Homo sapiens: one gene and its partner. The protein of the gene in region 2 purifies or fractionates together with the protein of the main gene of each other region. This does not show direct contact. Each region holds a gene or a part of one and is shown on either strand. Other genes may lie near its edges.

Region 1 (3,748 bases), on a different chromosome or scaffold from region 2:
CTAATTATTTTATTTTGTTTTTGTAGAGACAGGGCCTCCGTGTGTTGCCCAGGATGGTCCTGAACTCCTGACTTCAAGTGATCCTCCCATTTCGGCCTCCCAAAATGCTGGGATTACGGTCATGAGCCACTGCACCCAGTTTGCAGATTCTCATTGCTAGTGACTGGGTTGAGAGTGTGGGATGTGAGTGTGGGGTATTAGGTTCCTCTTTCCCTTTGACCCAGAACAAAGCTCTTACTGTTTTAAGCCCTGTGGGATTAATCTTAGAGTGGCTTAAGTGTAGGATATTTGGATTTGTTTATTTGAGGCCTTTTATGCTATTATAGTAAAAGGGCCAGCAATTTTAGGCTGGGTATTAGTGGTTAACATATGCTTCTACCCTGCAGCCTTTGTCCCTCAGAATTGGCTATCTCTTCAGACCGTGCTTAATGAAAGTTCTTATTAGTCAAGCTACTCAGTTGCAGATAACAAAAAGCTACTCTGACTAGCCTAAGCTGAAAGGGGTGTTTGTTGACTCTGTGATATTGTAAAATATATATCTGGTTTGTATCCCAGTTTGGAGCTTCCTGGAGGGTGGCGTGCCCAGGGTGGGTATGGAAGCTCTTCGCTCCTTCCCACATGCTTTGCCCTGTGCACCTCTTCCTTCATCTGTATCCATTGTGACATCCTTTATAATAAGCCAGTAAACCTAAGTGTTTCCCTGAGTGCTGAGAGCTGCTCCTGCAAATTAATGGAACCCAAGGAGGGAGTCATGGAAACCCTGATTTATAGTCAGTTGGTCAGAAGCACAAATAAAGCAACTGGGGGCTTGTGACTGGCATTGAGAATTGGGGGGACATGCTCGTGGGACTGAGCCCTCAACCTGTGGGGTTTGACACTCTGTCTGGGTGGATAGTGTTGGAAATAAACTGAATTAGAGGACATCCAGCGTGTATCCACTGCAGACTCAATGGATTGATTGGTGTTGGGGAGAAATCTCCACACATTTGGCCACGGAAATCTTATGTGTTGATTATCCTATATTGTGACAGCAGAGGAGAAAGTTTTGTTTTTTCCTCACAGACTGTAGCTGAAGAGTCCTGGAGTAAATCAGTTTCAGATGGGACTCTATCCAGAAGCCTAAATTATGTCACCAGTATTTTCTGTTTTTCTTTCTCTGTTTTTTTTTTTTTTTTTTTTTTTTTTCAGAGACGGGGTCTTGCTGTGTTTCCCAGGCTGGTCTTGAACTCCAGGCCTCAAGAGATCCTCCTGCCTCAGCCTCCTGAAAGCTGGGACTACAGGAGTCCACCACCACACCTGGGTACTTTTTTTTTTTTTTGAAACGGAGTCTCGCTGTGTCGCCAGGCTGGAGTGCAGTGGTGCAGTCTCGACTCACTGCGACCTCCACCTCCCGGGTTCAAGTGATTCTCCTGCCTCAGCCTCCCAAGTAGCTGGGACTACAGGCATGCACCACCATGCCCAGCTAATTTTTTTTTTTTTTTGTATTTTTAGTAGAGATGGGGTTTCACCATGTTGGCCAGGCTGGTCTTGACCTCTTGACCTCATGATCCACCCGCCTTGGCCTTCCAAAGTGCTGGGATTACAGGTGTGAGCCACCACGCCTGGCTGCACACCTGGGTACTTTTTATTTTTGGTAGAGATAGAGCCTCGCTATGTTGACAAGTCTGGTCTCAAACTCCTGGGCTCAAGCAATCCTCTGTACTTGGCCTCCCAAGGTGTTGGGATTACAGGCATGAGCCACTGCGACCCGCCTGTTTATTGGTTTTGTTAAATGCCTTGTCATGAGGCATTAAAAAGCCCATGATGGAAAGAAGATAGCCCCAGAGAAGGGATTCCAAATTCTTCACAAATTCTTCAACAGATGAGTGGATTAAAAACGACATCTATCCATAGAATGGAATGTTATTTAACCATAAAAAGGAATGAAGTTACTGATACATGCTGTGACATTGATGACCTTTGGAAACATGCTAAGTGAAAGAAGCAAGTCACATAAGGTCACAGTACAATTCTATTTATATGAAATGTCTAGAATAGGCAAATCTACAAATATGAATTAGAATAATGGCTGCCAGTGACTGAGAGGAGAAGGGGGTGGGGAATGACTGCTAATGAGTATAAGGTTTTAAGGAGAGTTGGTGAAAATGTTCTAAAATTAGATAGTGGTGATATTTGCACAACCTTGTGACTAACATAACACTGAATTGCACACTTTAAAAAAGTGAATTGGGGTGGGTGCGGTGGCTCACATTTTTAATCCCAGCACATTTTGGGAGGCTGAAGCAGGAAGATTGCTTGAGCCCAGTAGTTTGAGACCAGCCTGAGCAATATGATGAGACCTCATCTCAACAGAAAATTATAAAATTAGCTGGGCGTGGTGGTGCACACCTGTAGTCCCAGCCACTTGGGAGGCTGGGGCAGGAGGATTGACTGAGCCAAAGAAGTCAAGGCTGCAGTGAGCTGTAATTACACCACTTCACTCCAGCCTGGGCAATGAGAGTGAGACCCTGTCTCAAATAAGTAGATAGAGAGATAGAGAATTGTATGGCATGCGAATTATCTTCATTAAGCTGTTTTTGTTGTTGTTGTTGTTTTGAGACGGAATCTCACTCTGTCACCCAGACTGGAGTGCAGTGGTGCGATTTTGGCTCACTTTAACCTCCGCCTCCCGGATTCAAGCGATTCTTGTGCCTCAGCTTCTCAAGTAGCTGGGATTACAGGTGTGTGCCACCACACCCAGCTAATCTTTGTACTTTTTTAGTAGAGACAGTGTTGGCCAGGCTGGTCTCGAATTCCTGGCCTCAAGTGATCTGCCCACCTTGGCCTCCAAAAGTGCTGGGATTACAGGTGTGAGCCACCGCACCCGGCCCATTAAGCTGTTATTTTAAAAAGTCTGCCTAAACCTCTGAACTAGACAAACATGGGGCATATTCCAAGCAACTTAGCCAAGTTTAAAAGATCAGTACAGATTTCAGCTGATGCTTGCCTCAGGGAAGCTAGATTTGGAGTTTGAGTTCAGCTGTGATTAACTGCATGTTAACAGAAACAAAACACCAAACTCTCAAGAACATAACAGAATCCAGAGTCTACAACACATCATCTACAATGTCCAGGATATAATCCAAAATTCTTAGACACAAGAAATGGCCTGGGCATGGTGTCTTATGCCTGTAAACCCAGCACAGCACTTTGGGAGGCTGAGGCAGGCAGATCACTTGAGGACAGGAGTTTGAGACCAGCCTGGCCAACATAGCAGAACCCCTTCTCTACTAAAAGTACAAAAAAATTAGCTAGGCGTGGTGGTACACAGGAGGCTCAGGAGGCTAAGGCACAAGAATTGTTTGAACCCAGGAAGTGGAGGTTGAGCTGAGATCGTGCCACCACTCCAGCCTGGGCAACAGAGCAAGACTCTGACTCAAAAAAAAAAACCACGAAAATTTTAAAATATATTTTTACAAAACAGGAAAATATGATCTGTGTTCACAAAAAAAGGCAATGAATGGGCCCGGCACAGTGGCTCACGCCTGTAATCCCAGCACTTTGGGAGGCTGAGGTGGGTGGATCACGAGGTCAGGAGTTCGAGACCAGCCTGACCAACATGGTGAAACCCCATCTCTACTAAAAATACTAAAATTAGCTGGACGTGGTGGCGCACACCTGTAATCCCAGCTACTCAGGAAGCTGAGGCAGGAGAATTGCTTCAACCTGGGAGGAAGAGGTTGCAGTGAGCCGAGGTTACACCATTGCA
Region 2 (3,748 bases):
TCTTTCCAGGGTTTAAAAGTAAATACAGAATTGTGGGTTTCTTAAGTCCACATGATTCTGTTGAAGCCCTGCATAACTGTCACTCATCAATGTGCTCAGCAACCAGCTCTTGAGCACCTGTTCTCTGCAGGGACCTGCAGTGGGCTTGGGGCGCAGAGTGATGCGTAGCAACAGCCCTGCCCTCACAGCCTTCAGCGTCTGTGTGGGTAAAGGGACTCAAGTTGATTTTGGCCAGGGTGAGGCTGGGCACAGTAATCTTCAGGGAGAGAAATGATGTGTGTGAGTGTAAGTGTTCGCTGAATTTTCTACAAATTGAGGGAATACCCTTTAAAACTTTTTCTTTTTCTTTTTTGAGACAGAGTCTTGCTCTGTTGCCCAGGCTGGAGCACAGTTCACTGCACCCTCTGTCTCCTGGGCCCAAGCGATCCTTCCACCTCAGCCTCCCAAGTAGCTGGGATTGCAGGTGCACACCACCATGTTTGGATAATTTTTGTGTTTTGCGTAGAGACATCTCACCATGTTGCCCAGGCTGGTCTCGAACTCCTGGGCTCCAGTGATCCTCATGCCTTGGCTTCCCAGAGTGCTGGGTTACAAGTATGAGCCCCTGCCCTGGCCCTAGAACATTTTTAAAAACCTGTTTTGTTTGTTCATTAGGCTTCACTCTGACCTGGCCTGTTGTCGTAGAAACTATATTTGTGTAATTCTGTCAAAGCATACAATGGCTGAAGTGGGAGGGGTCCATGGTGGTGGACATTCTTCAATACCGTTCATGTAAAAGTGGCATAAAAACTAGCAGAATGCGATATCTCATCGTGTTCTGGCTTGAATGAATGAATAAAAGAAAATGAGTATGTAGAGGTAGAGGAAGCCGCTGGGATCCAGCGACACCTGTGGTTCAGCACACAGGTAACTCCTGCTCTCTGGTGATTTGTGTCCAGGTCTGCGTGGGCTGATCAACCTTGGGAACACATGCTTCATGAACTGCATCGTGCAGGCCCTGACCCACACGCCACTTCTGCGGGACTTCTTCCTGTCTGACAGGCACCGCTGTGAGATGCAGAGCCCCAGCTCCTGTCTGGTCTGTGAGATGTCCTCACTGTTTCAGGAGGTGAGCGCCATTGACTTCTGCAGGGGAACATTTCTGTTACTTTGTTTTCACCTTCAAAAAAAAAATTTAAGGTGGACCATGATAAAGGAAGATACATTTAGAACCTTTTGTAGTAAGTTAATGTTTAATATACATGTCTATTATGGAAAACACAGTTTTCCAAAAAGGGAAGACCTGGCGTGATTTTTGGGGACGCACTGCTGACTCAGAACAAGGAGAAGCCCTTTGAGAGGCTTGTGGCAGAGACTTCCCTGGTGGGTGACATTTGTCTCTAAAGACGGGTGATTCTCCCCCTTCCTCTTCCTCCATGGTCTACCTTCCTGGCTCAGAAAGGCACGCATGTGTCACCCTCCTGTGTCCTCCTGGTATGCGAGTCTCCTCCACCGCCAGGTCTCTCTAAGCATGCCCCATCAGAGCCTCTGTCCTCATGAGCTACGCGCTGCACGTTGGCTGTTCCTGTGGGCTGCACGTGTGGCGTTCCTGTCCACTTCTGTCCCCGGCATCAGAGCATGGCAGCGTTCAGAGCAAGGCGTTCACGGCTGCCGCCTCAGCCCTCACCGGCTCCGTGACCTAGACATGCTTCTCAGAGCTGAAGCAGCTCAGTTACCTCAACTAATAAGCAGGCTGGTGCCTGTTCTTCAGGTGCCTTGCACAGGAGCCAGCCAACAGCCCTGGCCTGTTCCCATTCGTAACCTCTGCGAGAGATGCAGCCACGCCAGCTCACTCATGTCTGTCTGGTCACTGGTCGCTTTTGTGGGACAGCCACAGAGTTGAGCAGTTGGACAGAGGCTATCCAACCTGCAAAGCTGAAATTATTTACTGTCCAAGCCTTTCAAAAACAGATTGCCAGCCTCTGGTCGAGCCTAACCGATTTCCTCAAAGTACCTGCAATGTGCCATAACTGCTGGGGACACGGCCCAAATAGGAGAAAGGAGGGTGCAGCTGGGAAGTTGGTGGGTGGTTGTATCACTGACTTTAGTGATAAGCTCACTTGTGTTAGATTGTTTTTAGACTCCGGCTTGTTAAGGTGTAAATTACAGTCACACCCACCTTCTAGCCTATAGATAGATGAGTTTCGACGAATGCATAGTTGTGTAACTGCTGCTACTCAAGATGAAGAACTGTTACCTCTCCGAACTCCCTCGTGCCCCTCCGAAGTCAACCCCCAGTCCCCAGACCCTGGTAGCTGCCGATCTGTCTTCGGTCCCTTGAGTGTCCTTTACCAGCGCATCATACGGATGGATGCATGCAGGAAGTAGCCTTTCTGAATCTGGCTGTCCCTACTTAATGTAATACTGGGTGGATTCACCCGTGTCTTGCGTGCATCCATGATGTGTGCTTTCGATGTCTGAGTTGGGTTCCATTATGTAGATGGGTTATGGTTTAGTTGTCTGTTTCCCAGTTCAGACACATTTGGGTGGTCTGTGGTTTTGGGTTTTTTGATGAGAAATAAAACTGCCCTGAATTCTGTATTTGCACAGGCAAGACCCCTCTGTGGGTTCTGACCTGGGGAGGAAGCCGTGGGATGGAAGGTGTGCTGCTGGGTCTGCGGCTGGAGTTGAGCTGTTGGAGAGGACTGGCTGGCAAGCCCTCAGCTAATTGCCATTAGCCTCAGAGGCAGAGAATCCTGTGGCTGATGCTGGTGAATTCTGCATAATCACAGTGATGTGCTTCCCTTTGCGGAGGTGCTGGTGTCCATGGGCCTGAGTGGTTTGGCTAGTGCTTTGAGGAAACTAGTATTGGGCAAATCGAGTCACTTTTATTTGCATGTGATCTCATAGTAGCAAGTCATAATTCATTTTTTAGGCTTATATGTGGAAAACTAGATGGTAGAAAGGAAAAAATTCATATGAGGACTCGAAAAGTCCAGTGAGCCCAGATAAAAATAGACTTTGCAAAAAGTAGAAAAGTAAAATCCAAACATTTGTGTCAAATGAGCCACAGCCAATGGTAGGCATCTGATAAAGGTTTTGATTGTGTGTACTCTGTGTTCAGAGTCTACATTTATTCCTGACAAGGTTTCCTTCCCCGCCCTCTGGCAGTTTTACTCTGGACACCGGTCCCCTCACATCCCGTATAAGTTGCTGCACCTGGTGTGGACCCACGCGAGGCACCTAGCAGGCTACGAGCAGCAGGACGCCCACGAGTTCCTCATCGCGGCCCTGGACGTGCTCCACCGACACTGCAAAGGTGGGCCCTGGGCTCTGCACCCTCCACCAGGGCAGGATGTTTTCCTTGAAGGGGAAGGAAGCAAAGCGAGTGTATGCACTCGTGCAAAAAGGGGCACAGGTGACACATTCCATTGTTTTGTCATCATAGCCCTTGTCGTCATTTGTTTCTGAAGTCACCATAACTAATGACCTCAGAGAGGCTCCTCCTAGTTTATTTTTAAGAGGCGAGGAAGTAGTTCCAGCAGTATGACAGGTCCTCAGTGACCGATCACAGTGAACAGCAAACTCTTGGAGCCCTCTTGGGCCTGTGCTTTGAGGCCCCTGCCTGCCCTGGCATTTCTGGGACCCTGTGGGTTATCAGGCCTGAGGCTTCTGGACATCCCCCAAACACAACTTAATCACCCAACTGTCTCCTTCCCATTGGGGACTCTCCAAAAGGACTGATGGTTGCTCTGAAATAGCCAGAGAG

What was found. Proteins that work in one complex are often made in the same cells at the same time.
Region 1: the proteins of USP22 (region 2) and SGF29 purify together in Homo sapiens (affinity purification with mass spectrometry; 6 studies listed by BioGRID and IntAct, with this or other methods). This does not show direct contact.

Annotation. Positions count from the first base shown.
Region 1 is NC_000016.10:28,556,807-28,560,554, forward strand, and holds part of SGF29 (SAGA-associated factor 29), read left to right. Parts: intron 1-3,748. UniProt on the Homo sapiens protein: Chromatin reader component of some histone acetyltransferase (HAT) SAGA-type complexes like the TFTC-HAT, ATAC or STAGA complexes.
Region 2 is NC_000017.11:21,015,302-21,019,049, reverse strand, and holds part of USP22 (ubiquitin carboxyl-terminal hydrolase 22), read left to right. Parts: intron 1-938; coding exon 939-1,108; intron 1,109-3,150; coding exon 3,151-3,298; intron 3,299-3,748. UniProt on the Homo sapiens protein: Deubiquitinase that plays a role in several cellular processes including transcriptional regulation, cell cycle progression or innate immunity.